7 linked regions of the Homo sapiens genome follow. The protein of the gene in region 1 purifies or fractionates together with the protein of each later gene. This does not show direct contact. Each region holds a gene or a part of one and is shown in the gene's direction. Other genes may lie near its edges.

What was found.
Region 2: the proteins of MKI67 (region 1) and HBA1 purify together in Homo sapiens (affinity purification with mass spectrometry, with the first as the bait; one large-scale study listed by BioGRID). This does not show direct contact.
Region 3: the proteins of MKI67 (region 1) and YTHDF3 purify together in Homo sapiens (affinity purification with mass spectrometry; one large-scale study listed by BioGRID and IntAct). This does not show direct contact.
Region 4: the proteins of MKI67 (region 1) and ZFP91 purify together in Homo sapiens (affinity purification with mass spectrometry; one large-scale study listed by BioGRID and IntAct). This does not show direct contact.
Region 5: the proteins of MKI67 (region 1) and IFI16 purify together in Homo sapiens (affinity purification with mass spectrometry; 3 studies listed by BioGRID and IntAct, with this or other methods). This does not show direct contact.
Region 6: the proteins of MKI67 (region 1) and MYH14 purify together in Homo sapiens (affinity purification with mass spectrometry; one large-scale study listed by BioGRID and IntAct). This does not show direct contact.
Region 7: the proteins of MKI67 (region 1) and METTL13 purify together in Homo sapiens (affinity purification with mass spectrometry; one large-scale study listed by BioGRID and IntAct). This does not show direct contact.

What each region holds. Positions count from the first base shown.
Region 1 is NC_000010.11:128,099,292-128,102,423, reverse strand, and holds part of MKI67 (proliferation marker protein Ki-67), read left to right. Parts: intron 1-722; coding exon 723-1,166; intron 1,167-3,132. UniProt on the Homo sapiens protein: Protein that associates with the surface of mitotic chromosomes and acts both as a chromosome repellent during early mitosis and chromosome attractant during late mitosis.
Region 2 is NC_000016.10:175,377-178,022, forward strand, and holds HBA1 (hemoglobin subunit alpha), read left to right. Parts: upstream 1-1,303; 5' UTR 1,304-1,340; coding exon 1,341-1,435; intron 1,436-1,552; coding exon 1,553-1,757; intron 1,758-1,906; coding exon 1,907-2,035; 3' UTR 2,036-2,146; downstream 2,147-2,646. UniProt on the Homo sapiens protein: Involved in oxygen transport from the lung to the various peripheral tissues.
Region 3 is NC_000008.11:63,189,121-63,192,620, forward strand, and holds part of YTHDF3 (YTH domain-containing family protein 3), read left to right. Parts: intron 1-3,500. UniProt on the Homo sapiens protein: Specifically recognizes and binds N6-methyladenosine (m6A)-containing RNAs, and regulates their stability. M6A is a modification present at internal sites of mRNAs and some non-coding RNAs and plays a role in mRNA stability and processing.
Region 4 is NC_000011.10:58,606,563-58,610,062, forward strand, and holds part of ZFP91 (E3 ubiquitin-protein ligase ZFP91), read left to right. Parts: intron 1-3,267; coding exon 3,268-3,477; intron 3,478-3,500. UniProt on the Homo sapiens protein: Atypical E3 ubiquitin-protein ligase that mediates 'Lys-63'-linked ubiquitination of MAP3K14/NIK, leading to stabilize and activate MAP3K14/NIK. It thereby acts as an activator of the non-canonical NF-kappa-B2/NFKB2 pathway.
Region 5 is NC_000001.11:159,016,407-159,019,906, forward strand, and holds part of IFI16 (gamma-interferon-inducible protein 16), read left to right. Parts: intron 1-126; coding exon 127-294; intron 295-1,822; coding exon 1,823-2,245; intron 2,246-3,500.
Region 6 is NC_000019.10:50,280,122-50,283,621, forward strand, and holds part of MYH14 (myosin-14), read left to right. Parts: coding exon 1-20; intron 21-109; coding exon 110-262; intron 263-1,472; coding exon 1,473-1,721; intron 1,722-3,500. UniProt on the Homo sapiens protein: Cellular myosin that appears to play a role in cytokinesis, cell shape, and specialized functions such as secretion and capping.
Region 7 is NC_000001.11:171,784,660-171,788,159, forward strand, and holds part of METTL13 (eEF1A lysine and N-terminal methyltransferase), read left to right. Parts: intron 1-1,219; coding exon 1,220-1,419; intron 1,420-3,075; coding exon 3,076-3,271; intron 3,272-3,500. UniProt on the Homo sapiens protein: Dual methyltransferase that catalyzes methylation of elongation factor 1-alpha (EEF1A1 and EEF1A2) at two different positions, and is therefore involved in the regulation of mRNA translation.

The sequences.
Region 1 (3,132 bases):
TCTTGGGACCTATAGAGGGAATAGACTAATATGGGAAAAGAACTAGTCAAACATGATTAATGCAAACTTAGAAGAGTTTCTCAAAAGCCAAATGAGTAATGTTCATCTTCAAATGTTTAAAAAATTGATCAGAGGATAGGTGGGTGGTTCAGTTCTATGTTCTGGATACTGTCACCAAGACCAGGACTGGGTTAAAAATCCTATCTATGTCACTATTTTAACTATCAGAACAATATCAATAAGGAATGTGTATTCTTGAGAAGGGGAAACTGTCTGGACTGTTAGATAGAGAGGCTCCCACTGCATGCAGAGAAGTTTGGGGAAACTCCAGAAATGGCAATTTCCTGTTCTGCCTTAGCAGTGATGGTTAAAGGAATAGGAATTCATTTACTCCCTGTAAATGAATGAATAACGGACCTTCTTTCTATAATGTAAACTGTAAAAATTAGATTTGATATATATCTTATTAGGCATTGTTATTGAAATTTATCCTGAATTCCTTATTTATAATTTGTCAGCAGAGACAGTCATTTCTCCATAGGAGCAAAGTACCAAGGCATTACCTTGACTATCCTAGATGACAAGTCTCTTAGACAATTCATCAGTGTGTGATTTTCAAATGATTTCTCCTTTTAGGTTACTGTTGATTGTGCTCCCTGTTGAATTTTGAAGTTTGTTTTACTAATTATTGGAATTTTGTGGATGTCTTCTCATTTCTTTAGGGAATATCCCTGCGCTCCAGACGCCAAAATAAGACTGAGGCAGAACAGCAAATAACTGAGGTCTTTGTATTAGCAGAAAGAATAGAAATAAACAGAAATGAAAAGAAGCCCATGAAGACCTCCCCAGAGATGGACATTCAGAATCCAGATGATGGAGCCCGGAAACCCATACCTAGAGACAAAGTCACTGAGAACAAAAGGTGCTTGAGGTCTGCTAGACAGAATGAGAGCTCCCAGCCTAAGGTGGCAGAGGAGAGCGGAGGGCAGAAGAGTGCGAAGGTTCTCATGCAGAATCAGAAAGGGAAAGGAGAAGCAGGAAATTCAGACTCCATGTGCCTGAGATCAAGAAAGACAAAAAGCCAGCCTGCAGCAAGCACTTTGGAGAGCAAATCTGTGCAGAGAGTAACGCGGAGTGTCAAGAGGTGTGCAGAAAATCCAAAGAAGGTAAGCCATTTACTGTTTCCCTGTTTTAAAAGACACAGAATGTTTTGATGTATTTTTTGCCCAAGGTTGCAAAGGCAAACAAAAAGCATTATCTTCAACAGCACTCTGCCAGCTCCCAGTTACATTAATGGAAGGAGCATTATGCTAAGACATAAATTTGGTCATTTTAGTTATATTTTGTTGTGTCTACTTTGGGAATTTCACTTCAAATAGCAAATTCACGTTATGAAGACTTTCTTCAGAAAGAAAAGGAATTTGTCTAGTGGCTAATTTCTGACTGCTTATGATGTACCTCATGATACAATTGTAGGTAGATGTCTTCAGCCTTTCTGTAGTTCAAAATCACCTCTTGAAACAGGAAAATTCTTTTTCCAAAAAAAACTATTGAAACAGAAAAATTTCCAAGGCATTCTTTGGAAAGGCAGAAGGAACAGAAGTTGGGATGTCCCTGAGACACATGCTCACTATGTGAGAGTTCCTGGTCAGTGGGGGATGCGTCTGCCCTCCAACCCTCCTCCAGCCAGAGACTATCTAAGCTAATGAACTTTAAGTGCTACTGAAATCACATCAAGTTGAGCCACTCATAATTACAAGCATGTGGACAAATCCATAAGAATGATTAGATTCCATTAGTGTTCTTCTGGGGAATACTTGGTTTAGCTAAAATAAAAATAGGTTGAATTGCTCCCTTTTTGTGAGCAATTCACAAAAATATAATATAAATTTAATTCTTAGCACACACAAAATTTGGACCTAAAACTACCATATTCTGAGTTCAGCAAACGAAACTCATGTAGCAATAACCTCTTCAGATACAGAATTCTGGCAAGTACAGCTGTCCAGACAGACCCTCTTCGGCACAAACTAGGAAGCTTCAACTGCCAAGAAAAGGAAAGATTCCCAGGTGTCCCCAGTACCTGCTGCATAGCCAGGCAGCCAGTGGAGGGGGAGGGCTTGTGTGTCTGGATGGTGGGCAGGAAGTCCTAGTGGGGAGATGCCCATAGACTGTTCCAGAGAGGGAAGAGGAGAGGCTCAAGAAGGGCACTGATGCCCACACAGGTGTCCTAAGTCAGAGACTGTACTTCTGGGGCAGGCTGGAAGCAGAAGACACCCGACAGTGCCAGACAAGGTCCTAGAAACCACAGGCACACCAGGGACGCAACAGCTGACGTGGGTCAGCACGTTCACCCGTCGAGTCTTACAATAAAACGCAGGCTCCAGGCGCTTACCGAATTCACAGTCTGGAAGGTGCTGCTTCCTCAGAATGAAACCAAAGAAGGGTGAAAGCGAATCTTTTAACTAGGATGATTCCTAAACACAGAGCAACCAGGCCCAAGGCTGAGCCAGGCCTGGTGTGTTCTGCCGGGGGCGTTCCAGCCTCTTCTCACACACAAGCACCCAGGAGACGCCCAACACACACATGCTCCTCTTTGCCGAGCTCTTCGGTGGGTGTCGGTAGTCCTAGAAAATGCATATATAAGATAGATTTTTTCCAGTAAGAAGCTTGTAGCCATGCTTTTCACCATGGTTCCTCTCCCTTAGCCAAGGGGTGAGAACTACTGCAAGAGTAAAGGCCAAGGCAGGTCTCCTGCATGCAAGTTGGGCATGCTTCTGTCTACAGGGGTTCCTTGGTTTAGGAGACCCAAAAGACTTAATCCTGGTTGGATTCACTTTTTCTGAGTGACATTTTTTAGTTTGTGAAAATGTGTGCATCGATGAAGAAATTTTATTATGAATTAGCTTAAAAATGCATTAGGAACTTCTGTATGAAAAGATCACATTATTTAAGTGTAAAAAAACTGCATAATAAAAGCAGTTCAAGTCAAGAAAAACAATGTTAATGGAATATATTTTAAAACTTATTTCCAACCTCAAAATTAATTTTCTGCAACTAAGGACCTGCATAATACCTAGTAAGCCTTTGGGGTTTTGCAGAGGAGGTCGATTCTAAAAATGGGTGTTTAAA
Region 2 (2,646 bases), on another chromosome or scaffold:
CAAAAAACATCACTTTTCATGCACAGGGATGCACCCACTGGCACTCCTGCACCTCCCACCCTTCCCCAGAAGTCCACCCCTTCCTTCCTCACCCTGCAGGAGCTGGCCAGCCTCATCACCCCAACATCTCCCCACCTCCATTCTCCAACCACAGGGCCCTTGTCTCCTCTGTCCTTTCCCCTCCCCGAGCCAAGCCTCCTCCCTCCTCCACCTCCTCCACCTAATACATATCCTTAAGTCTCACCTCCTCCAGGAAGCCCTCAGACTAACCCTGGTCACCTTGAATGCCTCGTCCACACCTCCAGACTTCCTCAGGGCCTGTGATGAGGTCTGCACCTCTGTGTGTACTTGTGTGATGGTTAGAGGACTGCCTACCTCCCAGAGGAGGTTGAATGCTCCAGCCGGTTCCAGCTATTGCTTTGTTTACCTGTTTAACCAGTATTTACCTAGCAAGTCTTCCATCAGATAGCATTTGGAGAGCTGGGGGTGTCACAGTGAACCACGACCTCTAGGCCAGTGGGAGAGTCAGTCACACAAACTGTGAGTCCATGACTTGGGGCTTAGCCAGCACCCACCACCCCACGCGCCACCCCACAACCCCGGGTAGAGGAGTCTGAATCTGGAGCCGCCCCCAGCCCAGCCCCGTGCTTTTTGCGTCCTGGTGTTTATTCCTTCCCGGTGCCTGTCACTCAAGCACACTAGTGACTATCGCCAGAGGGAAAGGGAGCTGCAGGAAGCGAGGCTGGAGAGCAGGAGGGGCTCTGCGCAGAAATTCTTTTGAGTTCCTATGGGCCAGGGCGTCCGGGTGCGCGCATTCCTCTCCGCCCCAGGATTGGGCGAAGCCTCCCGGCTCGCACTCGCTCGCCCGTGTGTTCCCCGATCCCGCTGGAGTCGATGCGCGTCCAGCGCGTGCCAGGCCGGGGCGGGGGTGCGGGCTGACTTTCTCCCTCGCTAGGGACGCTCCGGCGCCCGAAAGGAAAGGGTGGCGCTGCGCTCCGGGGTGCACGAGCCGACAGCGCCCGACCCCAACGGGCCGGCCCCGCCAGCGCCGCTACCGCCCTGCCCCCGGGCGAGCGGGATGGGCGGGAGTGGAGTGGCGGGTGGAGGGTGGAGACGTCCTGGCCCCCGCCCCGCGTGCACCCCCAGGGGAGGCCGAGCCCGCCGCCCGGCCCCGCGCAGGCCCCGCCCGGGACTCCCCTGCGGTCCAGGCCGCGCCCCGGGCTCCGCGCCAGCCAATGAGCGCCGCCCGGCCGGGCGTGCCCCCGCGCCCCAAGCATAAACCCTGGCGCGCTCGCGGCCCGGCACTCTTCTGGTCCCCACAGACTCAGAGAGAACCCACCATGGTGCTGTCTCCTGCCGACAAGACCAACGTCAAGGCCGCCTGGGGTAAGGTCGGCGCGCACGCTGGCGAGTATGGTGCGGAGGCCCTGGAGAGGTGAGGCTCCCTCCCCTGCTCCGACCCGGGCTCCTCGCCCGCCCGGACCCACAGGCCACCCTCAACCGTCCTGGCCCCGGACCCAAACCCCACCCCTCACTCTGCTTCTCCCCGCAGGATGTTCCTGTCCTTCCCCACCACCAAGACCTACTTCCCGCACTTCGACCTGAGCCACGGCTCTGCCCAGGTTAAGGGCCACGGCAAGAAGGTGGCCGACGCGCTGACCAACGCCGTGGCGCACGTGGACGACATGCCCAACGCGCTGTCCGCCCTGAGCGACCTGCACGCGCACAAGCTTCGGGTGGACCCGGTCAACTTCAAGGTGAGCGGCGGGCCGGGAGCGATCTGGGTCGAGGGGCGAGATGGCGCCTTCCTCGCAGGGCAGAGGATCACGCGGGTTGCGGGAGGTGTAGCGCAGGCGGCGGCTGCGGGCCTGGGCCCTCGGCCCCACTGACCCTCTTCTCTGCACAGCTCCTAAGCCACTGCCTGCTGGTGACCCTGGCCGCCCACCTCCCCGCCGAGTTCACCCCTGCGGTGCACGCCTCCCTGGACAAGTTCCTGGCTTCTGTGAGCACCGTGCTGACCTCCAAATACCGTTAAGCTGGAGCCTCGGTGGCCATGCTTCTTGCCCCTTGGGCCTCCCCCCAGCCCCTCCTCCCCTTCCTGCACCCGTACCCCCGTGGTCTTTGAATAAAGTCTGAGTGGGCGGCAGCCTGTGTGTGCCTGAGTTTTTTCCCTCAGCAAACGTGCCAGGCATGGGCGTGGACAGCAGCTGGGACACACATGGCTAGAACCTCTCTGCAGCTGGATAGGGTAGGAAAAGGCAGGGGCGGGAGGAGGGGATGGAGGAGGGAAAGTGGAGCCACCGCGAAGTCCAGCTGGAAAAACGCTGGACCCTAGAGTGCTTTGAGGATGCATTTGCTCTTTCCCGAGTTTTATTCCCAGACTTTTCAGATTCAATGCAGGTTTGCTGAAATAATGAATTTATCCATCTTTACGTTTCTGGGCACTCTTGTGCCAAGAACTGGCTGGCTTTCTGCCTGGGACGTCACTGGTTTCCCAGAGGTCCTCCCACATATGGGTGGTGGGTAGGTCAGAGAAGTCCCACTCCAGCATGGCTGCATTGATCCCCCATCGTTCCCACTAGTCTCCGTAAAACCTCCCAGATACAGGCACAGTCTAGATGAAATCAGGGGTGCGGGGTGCAACTG
Region 3 (3,500 bases), on another chromosome or scaffold:
ACCCTCTGTAAGATTGAGGGAGACATTCCTGAAATAAAACATGCTGTTTATCCTTGTATTATATTGGCCAGAATATTTTTATTTTTATTTTTTAAAAATATCCTATTGAGTGGCCCATATGGGGATTAGCCCCCCAAATATTGGCTAGACTTTGATCACAGGGCCACAAGAGTCAGTTCAACTAGGGAAAGTTTTCTCTTCCAAACTGTAACGTAAAATTGGGGTCCTATTTTTAGGTGGAAAGAGAAAATGGATGGGCTTTTCTATAGGGGATACATTTAAATTTCTTTTGAAACTTAGTAGGGGTAAAGTTAGAAGCTCCTCCAGTAAATAATGCTTGTTACTATGGAAAGCATGTTCTTATGGAATGCTTGTTCCTATGTAGAAATTAAGATAAAGAGGTAACTTAACTCTATGTAAAATCAGTGATTGTTTCTGTGTGTGAAGCTGAATATCTTGTCTTTGTGGTTGTGTGCAGCACAGGGAAGTGCTTCAACATTCCTCAGAGGGAAGGTGTTGGAATAATGACCCTAGAGCAGTAGTTTCCAAACCTTAAGTCACATAAGTGTTAATTGGGGTGTTTATTGAAATTGCAGATTCTCGAGACCCATCCCTTGGTATATTTGATAAAGGAACTTGCAGTGTACTTTTTAAGTATAAACATTCCAGGTGATTCTGGTGCTAGTTATTGATTGCTGTGTTGGATTGTTGGAAACTTTGCTTTGGAGTAATTAATACAAATGACTTTAAGGCTCTGCTGAACCTTTTAGATGGGTTGCTGAATATAATTGTGTTTTCTCCCACTTAAATATGAGAAATGAGAGAAATGGGATCAAAAGTAGCTACTGAGTCTTTCAGTTTAGCAGTTAAGTAAAGTGGTCATATTGTAACTGCCATTACAAGTAGCGCATCAGGAGAAATGATTTGAGGTATGAAAGGTGGGATGCAAGTTAAGACTTCATTTTTAGATTGTGCTGATTTTAAGATACCTTTGAGAAATATAGGCAGCAAAATCTCTGATTAGGCAGTTAGATGTCCGAGTCACAGATTTGGGGACCTTTTGTTCTTAAACAGTTAATAGCATGGAAGTGGGATGAGATTACTTAGGACAAAGGATACATGGCAAGGAAATACCAACTTTTCTTTCGCCCACCACTGAGGAGATAATCACCCTTCTGTGTCTTTTTTTTTTTCTACCAAACTTGAAAATTTAATCCTGGTTTTGTTATAATGTATTTGGTATGTTAATATTATGTAGTTGTTTCAGGAAATTTTTAATGACAGGTATATATTGTAGCTGTATTATTATATATATTGTAGCCATATACACAACAGTGATTTAAACTTTAATATTACCCTTATATTGTTTCATTGTTTTGTTAAATAAAGTTTATCCTAAAGCCGCCTCCTTACATATTTTAAGTCCAGCCTAAAGGTTTTTCTGTACATGGCGAACTATAACAAGTGGAGGTATAAACAGACCGCAGCCTACTCTTGTGCCAGTGACCAAATTTTGGCTGAATCAAATGTAGCCAACTGTTCAAATAAGGCAAATACCAACCTGTAATCAATCCAGCTGTTTATCTCACTTCCGTTTTCTGTATATCACTTTTCCTTTTTCTGTCTATAAAACTTCCACCACAGGGCTGTGCTTGAATGTCAGAGCCTACTCTGGCTGGCTCTGTGATTCGTGAATCACATTCATTGCTCAGTTAATCTCCTTTAAATTTAATTCAGCTGAAGTTTTTCTTTTGTCACGTTGCTGCCACCCTTTTTAATGCCTAACCCACCTTTGACAGCTCTATTTTGAACCTTGTTTAACTTATTATTTATTAGCAAGCCTTTAGATCCATAAAATGTCTTTGGTCAGAATATGTAAGCAACCATTTAGCTGGGTATAGAATTCTTTCTAGTCAACAGCCTTTTCACTTAAAGTACTATGTATAAGCCTTGCTTTACAGTTATGTGGTTTTATATTATGGAAAATTCTGAGGCCAGCCTACATTTTTTGTTTGTAAATAGCTGTTTTTTTGGTGTGTGCACAAAAGATTTTTCTTTATTTTTACATTATGAATGTAAATGTGAAAACGTGTACAATATGAATATTGTTTTCTGTAATCCTTTGTCTGCAGGCCACTTTTTTCTATTAATGTCAACAAATATGTTGAATCTTTGCCCTTGAGTTCTGTTGGTTCTTTATTCTTTTTCTCTTCATTTGGAGGATTTGAATTTTCCTGCTCACATATTTTTCAGTGTATTTTATTTGTGCTGTTTCTGTGATTTGTGAGGTTTTGCATTCTTCACTGATAGTATTTGTTTGCTTCTATTATCACATTCAGCTCCCCCTCTTAACTCTGTTTTCTTAATGGAATCCCTTGATCCTAGAATTCATCTTGATTTTATTGAGCACAAAAGACTGTGTTTAAAACTTATGTCTGCTTTCTGTACTTAATGTTTTTAGAAACTTTATATCTTTTTTCTTCTAAAAAAAATTAAATATAATAAAATTGTAAATTTCCTTGACCAGCCAGTTTATAGTCAAGCCCTCTCTCTCCCTCTCATTACTGAACCACTGATTGGTTGTTTGTCCCTATAAGACATTTTCCATATTGTCATAATTGAAATTATGTACTATATGATCTTTTAAGATGTTTATCTTTCACTCAGCATGGTATCTTTGCAATTCATCTATGTCGTTGTGTAACTCAATTCTTTGTTCCTTTTTATTACTAGGTAGTTTTCTATTACATGGATGGATGACCATTGTGTCTATTCCATTCATCCTTTGAAGGATATTTGGGATGTTTTCCTTTTGGGGGTAATGTAAATAAGGCTCCTATAAGAATTTGTGTATACTTAAAATATGTATATTTTTAAATCATACAATAAAATTCACTTTTGGCGGGGGCGTACAGCTCTATGAATTTTAACATATGTAGATTTGTGTAACCACCCTATCAGTTAGGATACAGAACAGTTTCGTCATCCCCCAAACCCTCCCTTATATACTAGCCTTTTGTTTTTCCATGCTTCCCCCATGCCTAAGCCCTGACAGCCACTCATCTGGACTCATAATTTTGTAATATCCTTTGTGGTTGTGGTGGCTTCAGGACTGTCTTTGGGCTTTTTGTGTTTAGTCATTGAACCAGTAAGAGAATCATTGAGTTCAGTTATTTGTCTCAGAATGGGTACTTTTACCCTCCCCACCCCGTTTCTTTCATTGCTGGATGCTAGTTGCATATACCTTTCTCTTTGCAAATGTGGAGATGGGAGAGTCATGCTGTAAATTGATTTTACCAGTTAAGTGATTGACCAGCCTGTGGAGATTTAAAAGGGAAAGCCAGTATAATGGGTTGTGCTAGGTATTTGACTGTCCCTTAAGTTTGAAACCACTGTGTTAGAAACCAGTTTTCCTTGCTTGTTAGCTGGTTAGCATATAGGGTACCATGTGTTTTTGTCCAGTTTTCTTCCTGGTACTTTTAGCCTTGTGTAGGCAGAAT
Region 4 (3,500 bases), on another chromosome or scaffold:
TATGATATGAAATTTAGGATACAAATGATCCCATCATGCAGGTACTGAGCATAGTACCCAATAGTTTTTCAACCTCCCCCCAATAATCTCCAGTTTCTGTTGTTGCCATCTTTATGTCCATGAGTACCTAATGTTTAGCTCCTACTTTGGTCTCTGTGGTCTCTAAAGGTTCTGGTCCTTTCGCTTATATTCATCAAGTGATTTGACAGATTTCCTTAAACATCTTTACTCACCTTTTTCTTGATTCAGTGCTCACTTGGCTTTTATAACCTTTAACTATTGTTAAGAGTTTCCACAAAGTTGATTCTGACAGTGTTTGTTCATGATATGTGTTTATTTCTGTGGAGGGACATTTTTGCTGTCATCTCTGACAGAGTGGTTTTTTTTTAAGACTAGATTTTTAGGGGACGGGAGCAGTAGTATTCAATAAGATAGGCTATTATGCCTTATTCATAATGGTAAACTATTGTTATCAAATTGGCATCATTTATCCAGTGAGTAAAATCTACAGTATAGGAGGTTGTGGGCATACCATCCTTTCATCATGAAGAAGAAAGGAGCTTTGTTGAGGACAGGAGGTTATGGAGTGAGTTCAAAGTCCAACTCGGTACAGTTGGGTTAAGGAAAAAAAAGATGTGTCTATTATTAAATGTTGTAATACTTCATAGGTGGTGTTGAATTGTTCTTTTTGATGAAATTGTTTTAAAAGTAGTCATGACCTATATGTAAAAGTCCTTCATTATTAATCTCAAAATATGATTTCTAAATCTAGGTGTCCTTAGCTAACCTTGTGATTTTGAATAAGCTTCTTTTTTGGGCTTCCAGATACTTTATGGGTAAAACGTAATGGATTGTGCTTAGACTGAATGGCCTTTGAGGTATTTTCACCTATATTAATGTTTTATTTTTTATTTTTTCTATTAAAATAGCTCAGATAGGAGGGTGATGCAATAATGAATGGAAAAAGACAGCTGAAAGGAAATGCACAACTGATTTTGATGGTTGTTTAGAACTGTTCGCACTGCTATTTATCTCTGTGTTTCAAACTAATTTCATTACTTCAGTATATTGTCATAAAACTTTCAGTGTAATTAAAGCTAAAATAGCCTATAGTCACCACATTGCTCCATAGTAAACTATTTTTTAATGTTAAGCAAAAATGTTGCCATACTGTATATATAGTTTTGTGTCTTTTTTATACATTTAACAATATTTTTGCTGATAATTCCATGTCATTTTTAACATAAACCTACCTCTATATAGTATTCAATCATACTAAGGTATCATGGTTTATTTAAGCACTTTATCTTTGACAGAGGGTTAGGTTGTTTCTGTTCTTTGCTATTATAAACATAATACAGTTAACCTCCATGTGGTAGTTTATATTTCTAGGGCATATACTTAAAGGTGAAATTACTACACATATTTTTGGACCTACCTTGGAAGTAACCAGTACTTAAGAATTTCTTGTACTTCTTCCAGAAATGTTATTATAGTATGTAAGATATATATATATACACACACACACACATACTGTAATGACTAATGTGTAGCACTGTTTTTAAGTAGTAGAAGAGTAGACAACTAAACATTCAAAGGGGGATTGGTTTCATAAGTTATATATTTGTGTGTATATATATCTTACATATATATCTCTCTCTTACATATGTACACAATTATTTGTGAAACCAATCCCTCTTTGAATGTTGTTTTCTACTCTTCTACTACTTAAAAACAGTGCTATATGTTAATCATTTATAAATATGATTGTAATTTTGTAGGATAAATTTCTAGTAGTTGAACATCATGTGGAAAGGTATATACATTTATAATTTTGATGTATATTGTCAAATTGGTCTGCATGGAGGTTTTGCTAATACATTATCATATGTGTGTTAGAGGACCTGTTTTCCCACAGTCTTGACAATACATTATGTTGTCAAATATGATCATCCCCAATATGATACATGAAAAATGGTGTCATGCTATCGTTTTCATTTGAGTCTCTTGTTCTGAGTGGATTGAGCTTTGAGCTTTTGTTTTTTGTTTTTTCTTTTTTTGGAATGGAGTCTTGCTCTTTCGCCGAGGCTGGAGTGCAGTGGCGCAGTCTCAGCTCACTGCAACCTCCACCTCCCGGGTTCAAGTGATTCTCCTGCCTCAGCCTCCCCAGTAGCTGGGATTGCAGTTAGGCACCACGACGCCTGGCTACCTTTTGTATTTTTGGTAGAGACGGGGTTTCACCACGTTGGCCAGGCTGGTCACAAACGCCTGACCTTTTGATCTGCCCGCCTTGGCCACTCAAAGTGCTGGGATTACAGGTGTGAGCCACTGAGCCCGGCCTGTTAGTTCCTATTTTTCTATTGGGTTATTAGACTTTGTTTATGGTTGATTTTTGCCATGAGGAAAATTGTTTTTATGTGTATCTTATGACCTGAAATTTTGTTTTATTATTGGGCCTTTCCCGTTCTGAGTTTATTAAAGAATCTTCTATTGTTAAAATGGGCTCAATTCTAATGTACTTTTTTTTTATATAGGTCTAAGTATTTAGCTACGCCAGGTATGAAAGCCAGTTTCTGAGATTAACTTTTTATTACTTACTACTCAAGAGAGGATGACCTACCGTACTTCACCCTTAAAACATGACAAAATATAGGATAACAATAACAGATTTGTGTGTGCTCCTGTACACAATGTCTTATAGGACAACTGAAACAGAATAGCACCAGAGCTGGACTTTACCATTCAATTGCTCTATAGATTAGTTCAAATTTATGGTGTGGTTCCAAGAAAAACTCTTGATTAGAGTGAAAAGTACTCCTGTTAGGAATTCCTCTTTAGTAATTTGTTATAGACTTGTTTGGTTGTAAATAACATCTAGATCTATGGTTCTTTCTTTTTGGTGCCTCTGTAGTTCTGGTCATCTTTTTGGGACTAATTAATTTAGTTTCTTTTAACTTAGATCTAAAAGGTAGAATTTCATGAATCCAGTTACTTAAGTGTATTTTGCATAGTTAGCATTGCATTTTTTAGAAGATAAGGCAGTATAAAATTACTACTTTGCAACATGAAGTAATTTCTTTAGCATGATGACATTAAGGATAAGTTTTATCTCATTTTCCTTTTTTTATTATTTCAATTAAAGTCTTCAGTTTTTTTTCCTTTGAAAATATTTAATTTATCTTCAACTGTATTTACAATTAGTAGATATACAGGGATGGTTATTGGTTAACTGTAAACTTAAAGAGAATGGTATGTCTTTTTATTTAGATCCCAAGGAAGAAAAAGAGGAAGAAGACGATTCTGCCCTCCCTCAGGAAGTTTCCATTGCTGCATCTAGACCTAGCCGGGGCTGGCGTAGTAGTAGGACATCTGTTTCTCGCCATCGTGATACAGAGAACACCCGAAGCTCTCGGTCCAAGACCGGTTCATTGCAGCTCATTTGCAAGTCAGAACCAAATACAGACCAACTTGATTATGGTACAGTGCAACTAGAATATGGC
Region 5 (3,500 bases), on another chromosome or scaffold:
CAGCAACCTCTCAAGTTTCCAAGAAACATCTTCTTAGGAATAATAAAACTACTATCCAATAATGAAAATGTGCTCTACTTCATTTGGCACTGAAAACGAATAACAGGAAAATCAAACCACTTTCAGAAAAGAAAAAAATCAACCAAAGAAAAGGCTGGACCCAAAGGGAGTAAGGTGTCCGAGGAACAGACTCAGCCTCCCTCTCCTGCAGGAGCCGGCATGTCCACAGCCATGGGCCGTTCCCCATCTCCCAAGACCTCATTGTCAGCTCCACCCAACAGTTCTTCAACTGAGGTACACTCTTCCTGGTCCCATTTTGCTTTGTTTTTTTCAACCCAAAGTAAAGGACTGATTTCACCGGTTACTTAAAAATTGCATCGATAATTTGCTAGTTAATCCAATGTACATATTGAGAAACCACTACATTTTGATCTTTTGCTTTCACAGGGATACTTGATGAACTTGACATTATCTCTGACTGCAGGAAGTTTTCTGTTCTGTGTTGTTTGGGGAAGGGAGAGAGAGCTATGCAGTACAGAACTGTCAGCTGTGGGCTCACTGTCTACTGCTCCCATGTCCTTCATACCTCTTCCCTTGGTTCACTATAGTATTCCATGTCAGACCTCTCCAGCACCTGCTAGTTTGTGAATGAGGTTATCCATACCCTCAGCTCTTTTTCTTGTAGATTAAACAACCTCCCCTGCATTAAAACTGTTCTATCGCAGTTTAAGGAGACTGGGATGTTAAAGAGTAAAGATGTTAAAGAAAACCCTTTCTGAGCCCCAGGTTTCTGTTAGCATGCTACCTGCTAGAGCCCTGACACTGAGAAAGGCTATGGTGGTGGGAATGACACTCTGTAGAGTTTCTGCAGCCTGAACCTACTGAGATGATGGCATTCTGAGGGGTTTATCCTACTTGTGTTCTCACCTGCTGTAAGCAAACTGAATCTTGGGTAGGAACACTATGAAATGTGCTCTTTAAATTGCCCTGTCTACACTGGTGATAACTGAACACTCTTTGTGTCTATAGTTTGTGGTGGGCACCATTTTTCATTTTTTTTTTATTTTTATTTTTTTTTAGTATTTATTGATCATTTTAAATGTCATTTAACTTTGTCTATTTTTAGGCTCTGGCACTTTAAGCTGGTAAGAGAAATAGTATAAGAAATTATTTCATTCTAAAATTTATTTATTTATTTATTGTTGTTGTTGTTGTTGTTGAGACAGAGTCTCGCTCTGTCACCCAGGCTGAAGTGCCGTGGCATAATCTCGGCTCACTGCAGCCTCCACCTCCCGGGTTCAAGTGATTCTCCTGCCTCAGCCTCCCAGGTAGCTGGGATTACAAGCGCCTGCCACTACACTCAGCTGATTTTTGTACTTTTAGTAGTGCCAGGGTTTCACCATGTTGGCCAGGCTGGTCTCAAACTCCTGATCTCAGGTGATCCACCCGCCTCGGCGTTTCAAAGTGCTGAGATTACAGGTGTGAGCCACCGCGCCTGGCCCTAAAATTTATTAAGTTACTTCATGACACTGGCTTTCAGTATCCACTGGTCTTATGTTGCTCTTATGCTTTATTTCTTAAGGTTGATTCTGTTTACAGAAAGGTCATCTTTTCACTATATGGTCTCCTCTGTTACTTCATCTTGCTATTGTACCAGTTTAAGATATCTTCTGCCCTGGCTCGCAATCCCTCTCTATCCTGACTCCAGCTCTAAACATCTGTGCAAGTTTTGGGGCCCTGTGTTATACTGAGGTCACTGAATAGCAGTTCTGTATTTCTCAATTAGACATTTTTCTTTGTTCTCCTGTGCTATCATACACAGAACCCGAAAACAGTGGCCAAATGTCAGGTAACTCCCAGAAGAAATGTTCTCCAAAAACGCCCAGTGATAGTGAAGGTACTGAGTACAACAAAGCCATTTGAATATGAGACCCCAGAAATGGAGAAAAAAATAATGTTTCATGCTACAGTGGCTACACAGACACAGTTCTTCCATGTGAAGGTTTTAAACACCAGCTTGAAGGAGAAATTCAATGGAAAGAAAATCATCATCATATCAGATTATTTGGAATATGATAGTCTCCTAGAGGTCAATGAAGAATCTACTGTATCTGAAGCTGGTCCTAACCAAACGTTTGAGGTTCCAAATAAAATCATCAACAGAGCAAAGGAAACTCTGAAGATTGATATTCTTCACAAACAAGCTTCAGGAAATATTGTATATGGGGTATTTATGCTACATAAGGTAAGTCCTCAAAATTGTTTCGTTTCATTTTTCCACCAACACCTGAAATTAAAAGTCTTGATGTGTGAGATGAAGCTTTGCCTATAAACTGGATATTAGAATCCAGGACTCTGAAGACTAATGACAGGTGGATAAAGACTTCTCTGAAGATAAGACTGGGATTAGGGGACCTGTTAATATTTCTTTCCCATGTTCTCCTTCCCAGAGCATTAAACTGTAGTCTTTACAATAATGTTCACTGAGAAACCTTAAGACTTTATCAGTTGTTATTATCTATGCTAAGTGATCAAGGACATTGTGAGGTCTACATCCATACACACATGATACTAAGTTTATCCCTTTGATTATTATCTCTACTGTCATAAAAATCACATTATTTTTATTTTGAATGAAGTATTGTCCTCTGAGGCTTGAGTTCTGGTTGTGACAGTCAGAATAAGAAATAAATTGACTACTCATGGCTGGAAAACAAATGCAGAAAGTAGGTAGGACAATGTTCTGACCAAATGAAACTAATTCATCATAAAGAAATGGAACAATTGGGAAATACGAATTTGGATGATACTTGGAAAATCAGGTAATCTAAATTTGTCATTTATATATAAATAACAAAAAAAAAAAATAGAGTACAGAGTGCTTTTCCTGATATGTTCCTGTCCAAATTCATAACCAGTTAGCATGAGACATTCCACCCCGCAAAAAAGCATCTATCCTCTGCTATTGATTCAAGCAATTTATCTGATCAATACTTCATTACCCATTATATTTGTTTCCTAGAACAACTCATTAACCTGCGTTACTTTCTGTACACAGTCTTTTTTTTTTTTTTGAGACGGAGTCTCTGTCGCCCAGGTTGGAGCGCAGTGGCGCGATCTCGGCTCACTGCAACCTTCGCCTCCTGGGTTCAGGCGATTCTCCTGCCTCAGCTTCCCAAGTAGCTGGGACTACAGGCGTGTGCCATCACGCCTGGCTAAATTTTTTGTATTTTTAGTAGAGACGGGGTTTCACTATGTTAGCCAGGATGGTCTTGGTCTCCTGACCTCGTGATCTGCCCACCTCGGCCTCCCAAAGTGCTGGGATTACAGGCATGAGCCATTGCGCATGGCCTATATACACACTCTTAAAGAGATGATTCTTACAAATCCAGTTCTAGGATGATGAGTAATGAGCAAAAAGCTGGAATGTTTGAGCTCAAGGACTTGGTTTCAGGAGGGGGTACAAATATTGGAAGAGACTCAGTAAATGCAGAAAGTAG
Region 6 (3,500 bases), on another chromosome or scaffold:
CCCAGCTGCACGATGCCCAGGTGACCCTGCCTGCCCTTCGGCTCCACCGTCACCCTCCCCTCCTTGTCCTCCCAGCCACACCTGACATTGCCGTCTCCTCCATCTACAGGAGCTGCTGCAGGAGGAGACCAGGGCGAAATTGGCCTTGGGGTCCCGGGTGCGAGCCATGGAGGCTGAGGCAGCCGGGCTGCGTGAGCAGCTGGAGGAGGAGGCAGCTGCCAGGGAACGGGCGGGCCGTGAACTGCAGACTGCCCAGGCCCAGGTGAGCAGCCCTACGTAAGACCTTCAGGGAGGCACAGCCCCCCTCACTGCTCCTCCTGGGTTCCCCAGCTCAGGGATGGCCATGCTGCCCACCTTCTCATAGGCCAGACCCATGGGTGCCTTTCTCATCTCTGACTCCCCCTTACCCCCCACAGCCCATGCCCAGCCCTGGCTGTCCTGACCCCTGACTCTCAGCCTCATCCCTTGTCCCAGCTCCAGCTCAGCCCCAGCTCCAGTGCCGTCCTCTCCCATCTAGATCCTCCTCTTGGCCTCTGGGCCTCCAGCCTCTCCCCTAACAGCTCATCCCCTGCACAGCCCCAGAAGCTTCTTTCTTTACCTGGAGCTGACCCTGTCCCTCCTCTGCTCACAGCTCTCCCACGCCTCCCCAGTACTCCTAGACAAAGTCCATGCCTCTCAGTCAGGCATTGAGGCCCTGCAATCTCTGGTCCTTCCTCTGCCTTTAGCTGTATTCATCTCTATCTCTACTTTCCTATTTTATTTGAAAAAAACCTTTTATTTTTCCAGACTTAGCATTAGGCTCCCCTGTGGGAAGTTTCCTGACCCGTCTTCTCTTTCTCCTCTGTCCCAACTCCAGTCACCTTGGGCTGGGACTGTCTCTGCCCATGAGTCTCCCCACCAGACTGAGAGCCCCTTCAAACTAGAATCCCATCAGAGTTAGATCCAGGTCTGTAGCACAGCCTGATATAGGGCCTGATGTATGGTAGGCGTTGAGAAATGCCTATTGAATGAATGAGTGATGGTACGTGCCTGCAGATATCCTTCAACTGGCAGACTTCTATGCATACTTCAAGACCCATCTCAAATGCTCCTCCTTCAGGAAGTTTCTCCTGAATGTTCTAAACAGATTCTGGGCACTTCCTGTGGACCTCCATAGCTCCCATACTGCTACCTTAACCCCTATCACCCTGGCTGTGACTCTGTGTCTCCCCCAGCAGCCGAGGGGCTCCCCAGGAAAGACTCCAGGTCTGATTCACCTCTGCATCTTGGAGGGAGTAATTTTAATTCCCTGGAAGAACTAGGGCTCATAGTATTCACAACTTCACACCACTCAGAGGCAGAAGAGCCCAGCAGAATGACCCCTTTCCCTCTTCAGGCCTCAGTCTCTTCATCCTGGAAATGGAGCACCACCAGCTTACACCTTGGTCACTCATGGCCGTGACCACCAACCACCCTCTCTCTCCTCCCCTCAGCTTTCCGAGTGGCGGCGGCGCCAGGAGGAGGAGGCAGGGGCACTGGAGGCAGGGGAGGAGGCACGGCGCCGGGCAGCCCGGGAGGCCGAGGCCCTGACCCAGCGCCTGGCAGAAAAGACAGAGACCGTGGATCGGCTGGAGCGGGGCCGCCGCCGGCTGCAGCAGGAGCTGGACGACGCCACCATGGACCTGGAGCAGCAGCGGCAGCTTGTGAGCACCCTGGAGAAGAAGCAGCGCAAGTTTGACCAGGTGGGGCACCTCAGTTCACCCAGCCGGGGAATCAGCAAGTCCATCTACGCTTCCCATGGTCGTTGTGAGGAACCAGTAATCCGTGCTGTCACGGCTCAACTAGGCAGTTGTAGTGGACCAGGAAGCAAGACCCTTCTTTGCTCTGGGCCTCTGTAAAATAGGACATCCCTCTGTCCTGATTCATGCCTCTTGCCACAGCATAATTCCTCGTAGCACCCACTTTTACTTTCAGAGCTGCCCTGGTTTTTGGATGACAAAATATACGAATACCTTCAGTACCCCAGAGATTGCTTATGAGAATTAAATCAAATAACTCATCTCACTTCTGCTGATTCACGGGGTACCTCAGGCAAGTTGCTTTTTCCATCTCAGCTTCAGTTCGCCCATCTGGAAAATGGCAATAATACCAAGCATCTGGCAGCCTGAGGATGAAATAAAAATCACAGAACCTTAGAGAGTTCAGATCAGGCAATCCTGAGGTTCAGATCCCAATTCGGCCTCTTGATGGCTGTGTGGCTTGGGCAAATTGCTCAACCTCTCTGTGCTTTATTTTATTCATTTAGAAAATGCAGTGTGAAGCTGGGCACTGTGGCTCATGCCTGTAATCCCAGCACTTTGGGAGGCCAAGGCGGGCGGATTGCCTGAGCTCAGGAGTTCACAACCAGCATGGGCAACACGGTGAAACCCCGTCTCTACTAAAATACAAAAAAATTAGCTGGGCATGGCGGTGTGCGCCTGTAATCCTAGCTACTCGGGAGGCTGAGGCAGGAGAATCACTTGAACTGGAAAGGCGGAGGTTGCAGTGAGCCAAGATCGTGCCACTGCACTCCGGCCTGGGTGATAGAGCAAGACTCCATCTCAAAAAAAAAATAAAAAATTAAAAAAAATTTTTTTAAATTGTCATTTCCCTGTAGGTGGTGCAGTATGTTTTTCTAGCTGACTTACGATTTCTCTCTTTATGTTTGGTTCTTAGTGGTTTGACTGTGATATGCCCAGCTGTGGGTTTTTTGTATTTATCCTGCTTTAGATTCACTGTGCTTCCTGTAGCTGTGGGTTGATGTTTTTGATCAAATGTGGAACATTTCAGCCATTATTTCTTCAAATATTTTTATCTCCCACTCTCTCTCCTTCCCCTTCTTCTTGGACTCCAAATACATATGATTTGATTGTAATACTCTTCCACAGGTCATTGAAGCTTTATTATTTTTGGCATCTTCTGGAATTTTATATAAATTATTTTCACATAAATCTCTTTTGGGATGGGCTTATTTTACTCAAAATAATTTTTTTTTTTTGAGACAGAGTCTCGCTGTGTCACCAAGGCTAGAGTGCAGTGGCACGATCTCAGCTCACTGCAACCTCCACCTCTCAGGTTCAAGCGATTCTCGTGCCTCAGCCTCCCAAGTAGCTGGGATTACAGGTGTGCACCACCATGCCTGGCTAATTTTTGTGTTTTTAATAGAGACGAGGTTTCACCATTTTGGCAAGGCTGGTCTCGAACTCCTGGCTTCAAGTGATCCACCCACCTCGGCCTCCCGAAGTGCTGGGATTATAGGAGTAAGCTACCGCACCCAGCCTCAAAATAATTAGTCTGAGATCCATCCATATTTTTGCATATCAATAATGTATTCCATGTATCAATAATGTATTTTTGCTGCTGAATATTATTCCTGTGGTATAGATCAGCCACATTTTGATATTCATTAACCTTTTGATGAACATTTGGGTTTTTTTCCAGTTTTTTTCTAGTTATGGATAAAACCTTAGTCTTTCTCAAAG
Region 7 (3,500 bases), on another chromosome or scaffold:
GGCATGATGAAAGGAGAGTAATAGCTCTCTAGCAACCTACTTGGAGTTGAGACCTATTCCTTTTCATCTGCCATTGCAAAGGCTTGATGAAGTGTGAGAATGGGGTTGGTAGGGAAGAGAGAGAATAGAGATAAATTTAGGAGGTCACATATGATATAGAGATGCTAGTTACTTTGTAGCATGGAGTAATGGAAGTAATGCTGGACTAGCAAGTCTAAGACATAGGTTCTAGTCCCAGCTGTAGCCTGTGAGCTGCAGGACCTGGGGAAGTTGCTGTGCTTCTCTGCAAAATTTGGAGAGGCAGCATAGGGTAGCAGCTAAAAAAGTGAGCTCTGGAACCAGACTGTTTGGGTTTCAGTTTTGGCTCAGTCATTTCCTGATGGTGTGACATTAGACAGGTTACTTTTCTTTCTCTGCCTTGATGGGATTGTAACTCTGGTGTAGTTGTGAGAAGTATAAAAGCTCTTAGAAATGGTACCTGGCCTTGGAAGTGCTGTGTAAATGTTAGCCATTATTACTGAAAGCAGTAAGTTATATCAGATTTATCTTAATAAGGATAAAAAAGATAGTAGGAGGAAGTGCTTTCAAAAGTGGAACATTGTAGACAAATGCAAAGTGTTTATGGTCTTGGTGTTACGGTAATTTGTTTCCTGGTGACTGAGCTAGTTTTTCAAGTATTCTATAATTCTGTCTGTCCATGTGTGGAAATAAATAGTGCAGTGAATACAAGCGTGGGTAGAGTCTGGGGCTAGACTGCCTGGGTTTGAGTCCCAGCTTCACCATTTACTTATTGTGCGAAGTTGGGCAAATAGTGTAACTTCTGTTTCTCAGTTTCCTCATATGTAAAAATGGGAATAATACTACTACCTGCATCTTGGACTGTTGGAGGATTCCATTAATATATATTTGTCAACAGCTTGGAGTCATGCCTGGCATGGCTTATTTGTGTTGGCATTACTGCTGTTTTTCTTGTGGTAGGTGTCTGCCTCCTTCCCCTACGGACATGCCCACACTTCTTCTCCACCCTTGGTCCTGCCTTATGTCTGATGGGCTGCTTTGCCCTAGATGTTGTGAACTAGAGAATTGTTAGCTCCTCAGTGGGTCACAGTTGGGGAAGATGCTGGTCTTGGACAGGGACTGGCTCCCTGCCGTTTGGGCCATATTGGTTGTGGGCTTGATCACTTTCCAGGACTCCCTGTAACCAAGTTCTTTTTTCTAGTCCCTCAGGGCCGGGAGACCGAGTGGCTCTTTGGCATGGATGAGGGCCGGAAACAGCTGGCGGCCAGTGCTGGCTTCAGGAGGTTGATTACAGTGGCCCTTCACCGAGGTCAGCAGTATGAAAGCATGGACCACATCCAAGCTGAGCTGTCGGCTAGAGTCATGGAGCTGGCCCCAGCTGGGATGCCCACCCAGCAGCAGGTAACAAAGCTTTCGTACGGCTTTCATGGGTCTCTGAAGTCATGTTAGCAGCCAGGGAGGCAGAGGGAGCCTTGGCAGGAGCTAGGACTAGAGTCTGTGACTCTTCATCTAATCCTGGAGGGGTATCAGCAGCTAAGGGTTAAATGGCAGGGAAACTGTCCTTTGCCCCAGGCAATGAGAGGAAAGTGAGCACAGTAGCGTCTGTGTCTGGGGGAGCCTCTCAGAGTCCATAGACATGGCAGGATGGAAATGCTCTACTCATTGCGGGCTTCAGTTCTTCCTAATTTGAGTTGCTCTGACTGTGGATTTCTCCTTCCACACTGGACTTTCTTGGTCATTTTGCTTCTTAGAACTATCATTATCTGAGGGTATAAATGGAAGAGGGCCAAAACAGCTCAGCACAGTTATCCAGGTATTCACATTGCTGGTCAGGTGTTTTACTGGGAAGGAAACCGAAGGTTTTTGCCTAAGTGGTGATATGGTATTATCAGTTAACACCAACTGTCTTGTGCTATCCTGGTCACCATGGGTAACGAACAAGTGATTTTACTAAAAGAACTTCATGATGAGGAGTTGATCCTTTTTTTTCTTTTTTGAGATAGGGTCTTGCTCTGTTGCCCAGGCTGGACTGGAGTTCAGTGGTGTGATCACGGCTCACTGCAGCCTCAGCCTCAACCTCCTGGGTTCAAACCATCCTCCCACCTCAGCCTTTGGTAGTAGCTGGGACTATAGGTGCAAGCCACCATACCTGGCTAGTTTTTTTTTTACATTTTTTGTAGAGACAGGGTCTCCCTATGTTGCCCAAGCTTTGATCCTTCTTGATAGGTGGGAAAGCAAAGGTATCTAGAGGCTTGGTGCAAATAGTAACAGATCTGAAAAAAAAGAACCCAGGCTCCTGGGTTCCTGGCCTGTGGTTTTGCCCACTAGGCTGACTCGTGTTTACAGATGAATGTAAGTTTGATTCTTCCTGGCCAACTTTGGGGTTGATGACCCCTATTTCAAGGAAGCCCAGATCCTCTGAGGAGCTTCATTTGTGGCCTCTCACCAGTGCCTGAGTCTGCAGGGTCAGGAGATATTGGTGATTATTAACTAGTCTTATAGGTCTTTAAAAAAAGAAATAAAGATAGGGGGAAGGAGTGGGAAAGTTTAGGGGGAAAGTATATTTTTCTCCTAAGGTTCAGAAAAGTGGGGGAAAAATAGATGAGAATAATCAGGGGAAAGGAATATCTCTCTAGATTTGGAGTGGTTGTTTCTCCCATGGATTTTGTTATCTTTATTCTTGTGTAGATTCCTTCTCATAATCACAGCCCCTTCCTGAGGGTTCCCTCTAGCTTTTGTTATCCTGGACTATTGAGAGTTCTTTTAGGGGTTACTGATGAGAAAAACCCCTAAAAGAACTTGGGGAGAATCAGCTGCATCTCACTAGTTGTTTGGGAGATCTTTATGTGTCCAGTTGATTTTCAAAAGATGAATTAAACCTTTGAGATCAGTTCAAAGGCTCCAGAAAAGTACTTTAATAGAATGGCAAATCTGTGGAGTAGTTGTTGTCTAGAACCGTGGTATGGGGATATATACACACAAAAGGGAAGGGGTTATAATTTCTCTTATTTCTTAAATGAGCTGCTGTTTTGACCACATCTCTGGTTGTACCTTCAGGTCCCCTTTCTGTCTGTGGGTGGGGACATTGGGGTCCGGACCGTTCAGCACCAAGACTGCAGCCCCTTGAGCGGTGACTATGTCATTGAGGATGTGCAAGGGGATGACAAGCGATACTTCCGTCGACTGATCTTCCTCAGCAACAGGAATGTGGTGCAGTCCGAAGCCAGGTTGCTGAAGGATGTGTCTCACAAAGGTGAGGTGTCATAGGCACAGTGGTGGGACCCAAGTGGCCGTGGCATGGACTAGATTTCTTGGGAGCTTGGCCGAGATGTAGGATGGACCTGGGTGTCTGTAGGTTCTTAACCATCTGGACTCTTAGGGTGTGAATAGCTATAAGCAGAGTACATTCTGTTCTTGAGCAGAGCCTGGCTCTGAAGTGATAGGGGACGTGAGTAGTGAAACCAAATACAGTGATAATCACA